2 linked regions of the Homo sapiens genome follow. The protein of the gene in region 2 interacts with the protein of the main gene of each other region in a pairwise test. Each region holds a gene or a part of one and is shown on either strand. Other genes may lie near its edges.

Region 1 (5,510 bases), on a different chromosome or scaffold from region 2:
TAAAAATACTAAGAAGTTATTTACCTTTCTCCACTTATTGACATTTGCACTAATGGTGCAAAAGCAATGGTAAGTAAAATTGCACCTTAATATGATCAAGGCAGTGGCACCAAATTGTACTTACAGTTATTGTATTCTTCACTGCCACACACTTAAATTTTTAAAATGCCAATTCCACTTAGGAATATCCTTGATGAAGCAGTAAAAATTATTAAGTGTATTAAATTCTGACCCCTGGTACATGCCATTTTAACTATTCTGAGTGATATGAGAACTGCATTTCAGGCACTTCTACTGTATGCCAAAGCAGAATGCGTGTCAGTTTCAAGAGAAAGGCACTTATGTGATTGTTTCAATTGCAGTATCAACTAGTTGCTTTTTCTGTGGAACACTACCTTTACTTGAAAGAACAATTGACAAACTGTGGTTATTGAGACTGAGGAGTTTGGCAGATATTTTCTCAAAAATGAACAAAGCGAGTCCGTCTCTTCAAGGGAAACAGCTGACAGTATTTGTTGCCAATGACAAAATTTATGCTTTCAAGCTTGATAGTTTCCCAATATTTAAAAACTTTTCAGATGAGATCATAATGATATTAACAAAAGTTGTCTGTTGATATCATATAATGAAAGTTGCCAATATCTGAACAATCTGCACAACTCAGTGAAATATATATATATATATATATATACCTTATTTCTAAAAATGGAAGCTTTGTATAAGGACTCAGAAGACCTTGGTTTGAATCCAAGGTCTGCCATTTTCTTGCTACTTCAGCTCCATTGTTGTATCTGTAAAATGAGTTTCCTCTGTTTCTTCTCTGTAAAATGGGTATGTAGTAGTAAATGTTAATATCTATACTGAGAATAATATAAAACAAGTCCATGGCACCTGGTTAATGTTGCACAAGTGTTTTCTATCGTAATAATAATAATCATCATCACATTAGGTGGGAGGACCTAGACATTACCTTTGTATATAGCATATGACTTCAGCACAAAGGCTTTGGTAATAGCTATTGCCAGAATCAAATCCTAGCACCACTTACTAGCTACTGACCTTGTGCAAGTAATTTAATAACCTGATCATATGTAATAACATATATGAATATACTAATTAATACTCATGTGATTATTGTGAGGAATAAATTGGATAATGCAAATTAGATGCTTAGCCCAGGACTTGGTTCATTAGGTTAACTCATGTAAACTAGTAATTGGGAATTTAAGAAATGTTTATTGAAACATTATTATAATCATGATTTTACACAATTATATTATATTGTATAAATTATATCACAATATGATGGCATTTATATTTTCAAAAGGATCCCCAGATTTTTGTGATACTTTCAAGCAGTGAAATTGGTAAACCAGCTCTCTCTAAAAAAAAAAAAAGCGAAAGCTGTGCTTTATAGCATCTGTGAATTTCTGTGGTGTAAATACTCCCACTATGGCCAATTTCAACATGAGGGCTCATGAAGTAGCTCATGGCTACCAACGCAAGGTCACTGAGTGCAGAGTTAGGAAGAAATTCTCACAGTTGTCCCTTGTGAGTGGGCATGAGCTGGCTTCAGCACACCACTGCTTTCAAGTATACTTTTGAGGAGGAATCAATCATTCAATAAGCCTCATCTGAGGATTCTATTCACCAGGAGGTGAACAGGAGGTTACACAAAAGCAAAGAAGCCAAAGGAAGCAGGGTTTCTGGTGCCTTTGGGTGTATTTTTGAAAGTCACTTTGGTTTCTCACTAAGTCACTCAGAACTTAACCTATTTATACACCTATGAAAACAAGACAATTCTGTGTGTACTTTTAATGGTTGGAAAAGTTTTTGGGGAATGAAACCTGGGAAGCAAGAACCTAGTTTAAAATACAATTTAATAAGAAAATCCGGGATACATTTTATATGATTCCATTTATTAAAGAAAAAGAAACTTCTTTCCAATATATTCTACCCAATTATTAAATTCATTTTAGATTTTTGGGAAGAGCAAATCCAACTTAAAAAAAAAACTTGCTAGGCAGTTGAAATCCTCTGGTTCCAAAGTTTTAAAAAATGAGGCAAGATTGTATAGTGAGAGTAGAAAAAATAAGATGAAGTGGAATCACCCATGACAATTTGTCATATTTGTCATTACGAATTTCAACATCTGCAACTGAAAAGCTACAGAAATCAAAAAATAAAACACAAAGAAGATTCTCAAGGACCAAAGACTGTTTGATGATGTTGCTCTAAGATTTTGTCCTCCATTTATTTCACACAAAAATAAGTTAAGTATAAATAAGAAGATGAGGAGAGCTGGTATGTACTCAGATGTGTTCACTGGTGCATAGTCAGAGGGGGTGTGAGAACAGCCAAATGTATTTCTTCGCCCACACTCACTACACAAAACTCTCCTCCATGTTGCTGCAGAGTAAGAAGGAGTCCACCAGCCGAGGCTGGACCAACTGCTGAAAGTCAGAGTCCTGGAGGCCTTCAGGGCAGACCCCAGCCAATCTACGCAGAGCAGCCTGGGGAGAAGACAGAAGAGGTGACACGTGTCAGACTGGGCCATGTCAGGTACATGTATTTCCTTCACCTACCCTGAAATGTGCATTTCAGAAAGTGGTGCATTTACCAGACAATTTGGGTTGATCATCATGTTAGCCACTTGGCATCTCAGTCACCATCTTGGTCACCTGGTCAACATAGCAACCACATCTCTTGGTCAGCTAGCTTTATTTGCACCTTGATCACTAAGATAGATGTCATCTGAAAGCTGTTAATAATCTTAATAATGGTCTTTATTATTTCCAGATCCCTAGAGTAACCTTAGAACAGCAAGAACTATTCATTCATCCATAAATTCAGCAAGGTGCTATAGAAAGCACTATGGAAAAAAGAGGAAAAGAGAGGGAGAACATATTGTAAAAGTAGACAGGGATTCTGCTACTGAGAAATTCAACACCTGGCAAGGGGGATGAACAGGAAAGAGAGGTGCTGGCAGAATAAAATCACTCCCCAGCTCCCCACACAATGAGCAATGAGTATGCTATTTCTATTTTGTGTCCATGTGTCCTTGCTCATATTCTTAATCTTCAGCCCAATGCTCTACCTCTGAGCTATACCCCCTCCTCCTTGCTCATACTCTTACTTGTGACTTGAAGTGACTTCCTGCTCCTGCCTATTGTCACCTCCCCCATGAAGGCTTCCCCAATTATCCTGAAGCAGAGACAGTCCATCCCTCCCTCCCCTGTGCAACCAGGGCCCCTGGGCTGACCTCAAGCTTCTCACACTTGGCCATAACTAGCTTTTAGGTATTTATCTCCCACACTAGACTCTGAGCTCCTCGAGAGTAAGGATCTTGTTTTCTATTTCTCTGTATCTATAGCAGACAACACAGAGGTTGGCACAGGGCTCAATAAATGTTGGCTGAAAAGAAATGAATAAACGAAGTGCTTTAATATTGAGATCTGCTGATAGAGCAACCTGAAACTAAATGTGAGCTGTGCACCTACCTAGACCTGTTTACCAGTTAACTGAGACAATGCATGCTAAGTGCTTGATAAATATTAATTTCTTCCCTCTTCCTGAGCATATACACAGCAGGGAACAAGGTGCCCCTCCTCTCCCACCCCTGGAAGCAAAAAGAGTGGGGGAATATCTAGAATGGCAAAAGAAGCAAAGAAGGAGGGAATGCAAACACTGAGAATCTCCCCATAGCACCTCACTTAATCCCTACATGATGCTGCAAGCTAAGTGTCATGATCTCCCTTTTGGAAATAAGGAAACTAGGGCTCAGAGGGGGAAAGTGGCCTTCCAGACATCACACAGGAGTCTGACTCCAGGGCACTCAGACCTATGCACACAGGTAGGATGCTGCAACCCCAGGATACAAGGTTATATTGAGCACAAGGCAGGGGTACCACTCATTACCTGGACATGGCAGGTAGCCTGTTGCTGAGAAATCAGGCCAACAAAGTGAAAAGAGAGGATAGTTTGAGCTGGTTGCTGGGAGTCACAGGTGCTGTCATGTCCAGGCCAGGTCAAAGAGAAGGAGCGTGTGTCTCTGTGCATTAATGAGCAGGGTCTGTGACCCTAGCAACAGGAAGTAGACTCCCCAGAACTGCCTCTAACACACACATCTCGACTCTCATGGGGCGTGGTTTACCCCATAGACTAACAAGGGTAAACTTCACAGCACTTTCTGATTCTTCTTGGCTCCAACTGGGAAAGATAACCCCATTTTCCCTGAGTTGTCACCATGAAAACAGAACCAGGGATTTTCTGAAGATGAGGAAACAAGGCCACCAATGCATTTTTGCATCATTAGGGATAAAAATAAAGCAAGAAGGGAGACAAGGAGACAGAGCGAAATAGAACATAGACCTATCAAGAGAGCAAATAAGACAGAAAAGGGAAATAGCCAAGAAACAGAGAAAAAGAGACAACAGAGAAAAAAGAACAAGAAGGAAATATTAAAACAGACAGAGATGAACTTGGTGAAGAAAAAAGACCAAGTATAAAAAAGAGATGGAGGAAAAAAAAAAAAGAAATAGTGGCAAAGAAAATAAAAGAGAGAGCCCTTAGGGGGAGGGGAGATAATAGGAGAGAGGTAGGGTGAGGTAAGGAGGCAGAGAGAAAAAGGAAGGAGTAGAGAAGGAGAGAAAGGAGTTATGGTGATAAAAAGAGGGGAAGAAGGGAAAGAAGAAAGAGAAACTGCTAAGAGAGAAGGCAAACCCTAGAAAGAGAGCAAAGCAGAAACCAAAACACAACAGAGAGCGGCAGAGAGAGAAGAGACACCCTTACCTCCCCAGGGCCCCCAGAAAGTCTACAGGACATGAACCCTACAGTAGCTCAGAGCACCCCCTCCTCAGTGTGCAGCAGCCTCAAAGGACCCTGCACCCTTGCCAACCCTTCTCTCAGCCTCTGCTTCTCTGGGAGGGTTAAACAGCTAGTCATCCTAGAATCTCATTCCCAGACAGCCTGAAAACACCCAAGCATTAAACAAGCCTGGCAACCTACTGACAGCTGCTTCATTCAGGAAAAATCCATTCTTTTTGGGAGAGATGATCTGCACTGCCACTTTCCCAGACAGGGGAGACAATAAGTGAAACTTCCTCCCTCTACCTGAAGGGAGCCTTTGAAGCTGGGAAACGCCTTGGGGAAGAGCAGGAATGGTGGCTTCTAACTCCATCTGCCAGGCTAGGCTCCAAGTGAATCTCACCAACCAGGAGACCACACTCAAATGTTGGAACACTCCTAGGGACAAACCATGGACACCCCCAAGACTGGGAGCTAGGAAAAGAGGAAGCAAGTCTGTCAGTCCCCAAATCAATTAATACATAGTCACCAAACTCAAGGTCCCATGGATATACAAAATGCTGGAAAAAGTCCTCTGCCCTGGGAAGGTTCCAGGCTAGAGGGGGAAAAGTACAAATCCTCCTCCATGAGTCAGTGCTGGAGACCAGTGCTGTAAGAGAGTGGGAGAGAAAGAGCATGGCTTGGAACAAGATGGTCTGGTTGAA
Region 2 (8,724 bases):
GTACAGTGGCTCGATCTCAGCTCACTGCAACCTCTGCCTCCTAGGTTCAAGCGATTCTCCTGCCTCAGCCTCCTGAGTAGCTGGGATTACAGGTGCCCACTACTATGCCCAGCTAATTTTTTGTATTTTTAGTAGAGACAGGGTTTCACCATGTTGGCCAGGCTGGTCTTGAACTCTTGACCTCGTGATTTGCCCACCTCGGCCTCCCAAAGTGCTGGGATTACAGGCGTGAGCCACCACGCCCAGCCCCATGTTACTGATTTTTAATTGTTCTTTATATATTGTGGTTAAAGTCCTTTATCAGATTAATGATTTACAAATATTGTCTCCCATTCTGTGGGTTGTCTTTTAACTTTAATAATAGTGTCTTTTGAAGCAGTAAAGATTTGGATTTGATGAAATCTAATTTATCTTTTTTTTTCTTTTATCACTTATGCTTTTGGTGTTATATCTCAGAAGTCTTTGCCTAACAGGCTGGGCCCTGTGACTCACACCTGTAATCCCAGTATTTTGGGAGGCCAAGTCGGGTGGATCACCTCAGGTCAGGAGCTCGAGAACAGCCTGGCCAACAGGGTGAAACCCCGTCTCTACTAAAATTAGCTGGGCGTGGTGGTAGGCACCTGTAATCCCAGCTGCTTGGGAGGCTGAGTCAGGGAGGCTGAGTCAGGAGAATGTCTTGAACCTGGGAGGTGGAGGTTGCAGTGAGCCGAGATCACGCCACTGCACTCCAGCGAGAGTCTGTCTCAAAAAAAAAAAAAAAAGTTCATGAAGATTTACTCCTATATTTGCAAAGAGTTTTATAGTTTTACCTCTTACTGTTAAGTCTTTACTCCATTTGGAGTTAATTTTTGTATATGGTGTGAGGTGTAGAGATCCAACTTTATTCTTTTCATGTATCTATCCAGTTGTACCAGCACTGTTTATTGTTTATTGAAAAGACTGTTCTCTTCCCATTGAATTATCTTGGCATGCTTGTTAAAAAAAATAATTCACATATATAAGAGTTTATTTTTGGACTCTCAACACTATCCCATTTTTCTATATATTAATTCTTTTTTTTTTTTTTTTGAGATGGAGTCTCGCTCTGTCACCCAGGCTGGAGTATAGTGGTGTGATCTTGGCTCACTGCAACCTCTGCCTCCCAGGTTCAAGCGATTCTCCTGCCTCAGCCTCTCGAGTAGCTGGAATTACAGGTACTTATCACCAAATCTGGCTAAATTTTTTGTATTTCTAGTAGAGACAGCGTTTTGCCATGTTGGCCAGTCTGGTCTCGAACTCCCGACCTCAAGTGATCCGCCCACCTCGGCCTCCCAAAGTGCTGGGATTACAGGCATGAGCCACCACGCCCGGCCTCTATATGTCATTTCTTATGCCAGTACCACCACGTTGTTTTGGGGAGGGCTTTTCCCCAGCTTTATTGAAATATGATTGACAAACTAAAAATTATATACATTTGAGGTAAACATCATGGTGTTTTGATATAAGTGTACCTTTTGTAATGATTCCCACAATAGAGCTAGCTCACACATTCATCACTTGACATAATTACCATTTTTGTGTGTGTGATGAGAACATCTGAGATCTTAACAAATTTCAATTATTTTCTATAGTTACCATGCTGTATATCTCTAGAACTTATTTACCTCATAACTGAAAATTTTTAAGTACAACACTTTTGATTACTTTTACTTTAGTTTTATAGTACATTTTAAAAATGGGAAGTGTGAGTCCTCCAACTTCTTTTTTAAGATTGTTTTATTTATTCTTAGTCTCGTATTTCCATCTTAATTCATCCATAATAAGGATCAACTTGTTAATTTCTGCAAAAAAACAGCTGAGTTTTGATGGATATTACATTAAATCGATACATCAATTTGAGGAGTATTCTATCTTAATATTGAGGCTTTTAATCTATGAACATGGAATGTCCATGTATTTAGATCTTTAATTTCTTTCGATAATGTATGATTTTCATTGTACAAGTCTTGTATTTCTTTTGTTAAATTTATTCCTACATATTTATTCTCTTTATCCTATTTTGAATCAGTGTTTTCTTAATTTTATTTTCAGATTATTTATTGCTGACATATAAAAATACAATTTTATTTATTTATTATGTATCCTATGGCCTTGCCGAACTTATTTAGTCGTTCTAATTGGGGGGGGCGATTTATTTGTTTATTTATTGTGGAATCCTTAGGATTTTCTACATAGAGGGTTATGTCAGCTGATAATAATGTTTTATTTCTCCCTTTCTAATCTTCATGCCTTAATTTATTGTTCTTGCCTGTTGCTCTGACTGTAATATCCACAACTTTGACTACAGGTGGTGAGAGAAATCATTCTTGCCTTGTTTCCAATCTTGGAAAACATTCAAACATGCTCCATTAAGTATGATATTAGCTTTAGGTTTTTGTAAATCAGGATTTTTTGGTTTTGTTTTTTAATTTTTAATTTTTGTGAGTACATAGTAGTAGGTGTATATATTTATGAGATACATGTGATGCTTTGACACAGGCATACAATGTATAGTAATCACATCAGAGTAAGTGGGTATCTGTGTCCTCAAGCACTTATCATTTCTTTGTGTTAGAATTATTCCAATTCTACTCTTTTAGTTATTTTAAAATATACAATAACTTATTGTTGACTGTAGTCACCCTGTTGTGATATCAAGTACTAGATCTTATTCATTCTATCTAACTACGTTTTGTACCCATTAACTATCCCCACTTTTCCCTCCCTGCCCAATACCCTTCCCAGCTTCTGGTAATCATCATTCTACTCTCTGTGTTCATGAGTTCAGTTGTTTTAATTTTTAGCTCTCATAAATGAGTGAGAACATACAAAATTTGTCTCTCTCTGCCTGGTTAATTTCTCTTAGTATAATATCCTTCAGTTTCATCCATGTTGCTGTAAATGACAGGATTTCGTTCTGTTTTGTGTGTATATCTACCACATTTTTTTATCCATTCATGTGTTGATGAACATTTAGGCTGATTCCAAATCTTGGCTGTTGTGGATAGAGCTGCAGTACACATGGGAGTGCAGATATCTCTGATATACTTTTCTTTTGGATATATATGGAGCAGTGGGACTGCTGGATCATATGGTAGTTCTTCTATTTTTAGCTTTTTGAGGAACTTCCATACTGTTCTCCACAGTGGCTGTAATAACTTGCATTCCCACCAACAGTGTATGAGTGTCCCCCTTTGTCCACATCCTCACCAGCATCTGTTACTGCCTTTTTAATAAAAGCCATCTTAACTGGGGTGAGATGACCTCATTGTAGTTTGATTTGCCTTTCTGTGCTGATCAGTGATGTTGAGTATTTTTTCATATACTTGTTGGTTATTTGCATGTCTTTTGAGAAATGTCTATTCAGATCTTTTGCTCACTTTTTAATCAGATTATTAGATTTTTTTTCCTATTGGGTTTTGTTTAAGCTCCTTATATATTCTGGTTATTAATCCCTTGTCAGATGGGTAGTTTACAAATATTTTCTCCCATTCTGTGGGTTGTCTCTTCACTTTGTTGATTGTTTCCTTTGCTATACAGCAGCTTTTTTACTTGATGTGATCCCATTTGTCCATTTTTGTTTTGGTTGCCTGTACTTTTGAGATCTTTCTTAAGAATTCTTTCCCCAGACCACTGTCCCAGAGAGTTTCCCCAGTGTTTTCTCTTGGTAATTTTATAGTTTCAGGTCTTATATTTAAGTCTTTAATCCACTTTGATTTGTAAAATCAGGCTTTTATCAGCCTTTTATCAGGTTGGGGAAGTTTTTTTAATCATGATTGGATAATGGATTTTGCCAAATGTGTTTTCTGCATCTATCAAGATGATCAGATGGTTTGTGACCACATTCTACTGTATAGTGTATTATATTAATGAGTTCAGATGTTAAACCAACCTTCCATTTCTAGGATAAACTCCCCTTGATCATAATGTATTATCCTTTGTATATGTTGCTAGATTTGGTTTGCCAATATTTTGTTGAGGATTTTTGTGTCCATATTCATGAAGGGTATTCATTTGTTATTTTCTTGTGATGTCTTTGTCTGGCTTTGGTATCAGGGTAATACTGACCTCATAGAACAAGTGAGAGTTTCCTTCTCTATCTTCTGTTAGAGTTTTCAAAATACTCATGTTGTTTCTTCTTTAATGGTTTGGTAGAATACATCACTGATGCCATCTGAGCCTGGGCTTAACCTTGTATAAATATTTTTAATTACTAATTTAATTTTTTTACTTGTTATAGATCTATTCAGATTTTCTATTTTTCTGTTATTTTTTTATCACTATTTTTTTGGTATTTTTTATCTTTTTAGAGTGTTTTTCCAGTGCGTTAGCTTACATATGGGTAAGTTTGCTTCTTAACTAGCGTACACTTTCACTAGTTAAGAAACTAGTCATAATGGCTTCTTTTTTTTAACTTTTTTTTTTTTTTTCTGAGACAGGATCTTGTTCTGTCACCCAGGCTGGAGTGCAGTGGTGTGATCTCAGCTCACTGTAGCCTCCGCCTCCTGGGCTCAAGCAGTCCTCTCCCGTCAGCCTCCCAAGTAGCTGGAGAAGCCGAGCGCCACCACACTCGGCTAATTTTTGCAATTTTAGTGGAGACGGGGTTTTGACATGTTGCCCAGCCTGACCTTGAACTCCTCGGCTCAAGCCATCAACCCATCTCAGCCTCCCACAGTGCTGATATTACAGGCATGAGCCACCGTCCCTGATTGATGAGGTTTTTTATTTCCTAAAAGCCACTGCCCTGAGGGCCCCTGCCCCTTCCTCAGGCTCCCCTACATCTCTCCACAAGTCAGCCTCCAACGGTTCACACCTGGAAAAGCAGGGGACCTTCAGAACTGAGCTCCAGCCTAGTTGGCACCTATATAGATTGGTTGGCCCTCCTGCTATTTCAGTTATTATTTTGAACATCACCACTTGGAAGACTGAGACTCCACTTCAGACCTCTTCTTCCTAACACCCTGATCTGGGGCTGATTATGTGCTTTAACATTCTACTGGGCAGGTCTGGCAGAAGGAACAGTATCAACTGACTGAGTAGGTCTCATTGGCAGTTGTGATTCAGAGACCTAGAAAGCTGAACCCACGGCTGGCAAGAAGAGGATGGTTTGTGGGACCTGGGCTGATGTCTGATGAAATTTTAAGCCCCAGCTATAGCTACTACAAAGAAAAGTGGCTGATGATAAGCATGTAACTCAAAGTAAGTGAACTGAGAAGCATGTTTTTTGTTTGTTTGTTTGTTTGTTTGTTTGAGACAGTTTCGCTCTTGTTGCCCAGGGTGGAGTGCAGTGGCACAATCTCGGCTCACTGCAACCTCTGCCTCCCAGGTTCAAGCGATTCTTGTGCCTCAGCCTCCGAGTCGCTGGGATTACCAGGTGTGTGCCACCACACCTGGCTAATTTTTTGTATTAGTAGAGACAGGGTTTCTCCATGTTGGTCAGGCTGGCCTCGAACTCCCGACCTCAGGTGATCTGCCAGCCTTAGCCTCTCAAAGTGGTGGGATTACAGGCATGAGCCCCCGCGCCCTGCCTGAGAAGTATGTTTTTATGTTGAGGATGTTACTGTGTGATGCCACATACATTGAAACACATACATTTAAAGTAAGGCCACAGACTCAAATGCCTCTAGAAGCCAGACAGGTAGCATACCTCCTCCTTTCATTGATTCAGAGACGTACATTTTTTTTGGCATTTGAACATCTCTGAAATTAGAGTGAACGTTACAATTGCAAGTCAAATGGTGTATAAAAAAGCAGCATCTTTATAGTCAGTGGTGCTTTAGATTAGACGAAATAACAGAAAATGAGTGGTGTTGGCCAGGAAAATTATATCCTTCTCTGTTGGCCTTTCACTTTGAAAGAGAGAAATGGATACAGAGACCTACTTTCCTACAATAAGACACAAGAACAATGACAAATGGGAACGACTTTGCTGCCTTCATGTCCGGTAGCCAATAGGGATTGGTGGCAACAGGCAAACTGGAGAGTACCCTTGCCCCCAGGGCAGCTCCCCCTCTTCCCTAGCTGATTATTGCCTGTGGTGGCATAGATCTAGTGTTGACAAGTGTTCTGAGTTTTCAAAGGAAGTCAGAAACCCCAAAATCTACATCTTCATGTGAAACTCCTAATTTTAAAATGATGGCTCAATTTTTTTTAACTGGCGAAAAAAAATATATATATACAAGTTAGATGAGCCTATGAGTGCTCAGAATAAATATAACCTCTCTTTTAAGGATGCAATATTAAGAGGCAGCATGAGACAAACCAGTTTTTACAATTAAGCCAAAAAAGAAAAGTTAAATCCATTTCGAAGTTTAACACTAGGTTCAGAGGCCCAGAATAACAAATACTGCAGGGCCTCTTACTTATTTCATCTTTAAACTTTCTTTTCTGCCTCCCACTAAATGGAAGATAAGAAAATATAGTTAAATCTATTGAAGATGTTGCATTCCTGTTTATAAAAATGTATGATCACTTTTTAAAATGCAGGCTTAGGTTTCCAAAGCAACAGCATTTGCTTCCCACTGCTGTAGACTGTGGTCAGTGAAAGGCAGGATGATGTCATGGGAAACCCCCAAATTATGAGAAGACCAGGGTGCTAATTCTGGCTGTGTGATGTGCAACTGATTTAGGTTCATTTCATCGTCTTTATTTATAAAATGGGGATGATAATAGCTACCCTCTGTACCTTACATGGTTGTAAGGGCCACATGAGATAAAACATGTGAAAGTATAAAGTGTTATGTATATATTAGTTGGTATTGCCCAAATCACATGGGTAGTTGGGACAGCACAGGTTCTTGAATCTCAGATTCTCCATCTCTGGCTACTGCTCTTTCCCTAGACTGCAGCACCTGTTGAAATGGTCATCTTATCAGCCAGTGGGGTTGAACAGATGAGGAAGCATAAGGCAAGAAGTTATTAGAAAAAAGTTAGCCAACATCTTAGGATCTCAAATAGCACTGTGTCTCTGTACAACAGGGTGTAGGCAAAGCTTTCCTGTTAAATCTGAAGTATTGACCTTTAACGTTTTTATTTATTTATTTTTATTTGTTTATTTTTTATTTATTTTTATTTTTTTTGAGACAGAGTCTCACTCTATCACCCAGGCTGGAGTGCAATGGTGTGGTCTCGGCTCACTGCAACCTCCACCTCCCTGGTTCAAGTGATTCTCCTGCCTCAGCCTCCAGAGTAGCTGGGACTACAGGCACATGCCACCACACTGGGCTAATTTTTGTATTTTTAGTAGAGATGGGTTTTCACTGTGTTGGCCAGGGTGGTCTTGAACTCCTGACCTTGTGATCTGCATGCCTCGACCTCCCACAGTGCTGCTGGGATTACGGGCGTGAGCCACCATGCCCAGCCGACCTTTAACATTTTTAGGAGGTACCCAGGAATGAGAACACCACCTACATTGTAGATCAGCCTCTCTAGCATTCTCACAGTTTGACCTTTGGCTGATTCCTTCTTTCTCTTTTTCATATTTTTGTGCTATATAAGCTTTATGAGGAAATGAGTCAATCAAACTCTTAGCCTGAAATGAATGAATGCCTTCTTAGCCTGAAATCCAGCATTTTACTTTCCCCCTAGCTCAGGGTTTCCCAAACAATGTTTTTAAAGTGCTATTTCCATAAGATTTAATAGGTGCTCAAGAAAAAAGATAATCTCATGGTCAAAAAAAGACTGGAAAAGTGCTGTATACTGTACCCACTCTGGGATATTCACAAGGTATTATATTAAAGTTTTGAGAAGACCTGTTTACCCATTTATTTGATCACAGAATCCTCCTTTTGTGGAACCAATATTTGTGTTTACCAACTCATTTGATCACCTCTGTCAATAACCCTCCTCAATGGCATGTACGTTAATGTCTTGTGGCTCTGGTGTACTGCAGCAATTGGCTTGGAAAATGCTGTTCTATAGCCTCATTTCACATACACCAAATTGAACCACCAGCAGTTAGCCATGCATGTATTTCACTTTCCCACTTCCAAGCCTTTTGTAATTATTCACTCTGCTTGGGATGCTTTCTCTTCTCCCTTCTTGTTGTCTGGAGTCTTTTTAGCCAAACAAGCAAGGTCATTGCAGCAGCAATGATTCCCATTTCTGAAGTCTTAGCACTTGCCACTCTTCTAGCAATTTTAGCACCTAGTACTGTGCTAATGTGTACCTGATCTTTTTTCCTGCTCCATTTTACATTTCTTGGGGTTATTGTTTTCTGCGTAATACATTAGCCTGGTGCATTGTTTGTAGCCAGAATTCAGTAAATAGTTGTGGAATGAATAACTAAATGAGTTGTGGCCAGGTGCAGTGGCTCATGCCTGTAATCCAGCACTTTGGGAGGCCGAGGTGGGCTGATCACTTGAGGTCAGGAGTTCAAGACCAACCTGGCCAACATGGTGAAACCCCATCTCTACTGAAAGAAAAAAAAAAATTAGCCAGGCATGGTGGTGCATGCCTGTAATCCCAGCTCCTTGGGAGGCGGAGGCAGGAGAATCGCTTGAACCTGGAAGGCGGAGGTTGCAGTGAGCCGAGATCGTGCCACTGTACTCCAGCCTGGGTGACAGAGTGAGACTCCGTCTCAAAAAATAATAATAATAAAAAATAAATAAACAAGTTGCAATAGGATGAAATTTAAAATGTTATCTATAGTAGATAATGGAATTGGAGTTTGAAGAGGAGGAATGGGGAGGGATCTCTGAAAGCCTG

Evidence for each region. The genes of interacting proteins can lie anywhere in the genome.
Region 1: the proteins of TTC23 (region 2) and INSC interact in binary tests that used the Homo sapiens proteins (3 or more experiments, as listed by UniProt).

The regions. Positions count from the first base shown.
Region 1 is NC_000011.10:15,242,915-15,248,424, reverse strand, and holds the end of INSC (protein inscuteable homolog), read right to left. Parts: exon of another isoform or gene 4,685-5,510; intron 2,514-4,684; coding exon 2,385-2,513; 3' UTR 1,217-2,384; downstream 1-1,216. UniProt on the Homo sapiens protein: May function as an adapter linking the Par3 complex to the GPSM1/GPSM2 complex. Involved in spindle orientation during mitosis. May regulate cell proliferation and differentiation in the developing nervous system.
Region 2 is NC_000015.10:99,237,858-99,246,581, reverse strand, and holds part of TTC23 (tetratricopeptide repeat protein 23), read left to right. Parts: intron 1-1,071; 5' UTR 1,072-1,193; intron 1,194-5,022; 5' UTR 5,023-5,217; intron 5,218-8,724. UniProt on the Homo sapiens protein: Participates positively in the ciliary Hedgehog (Hh) signaling.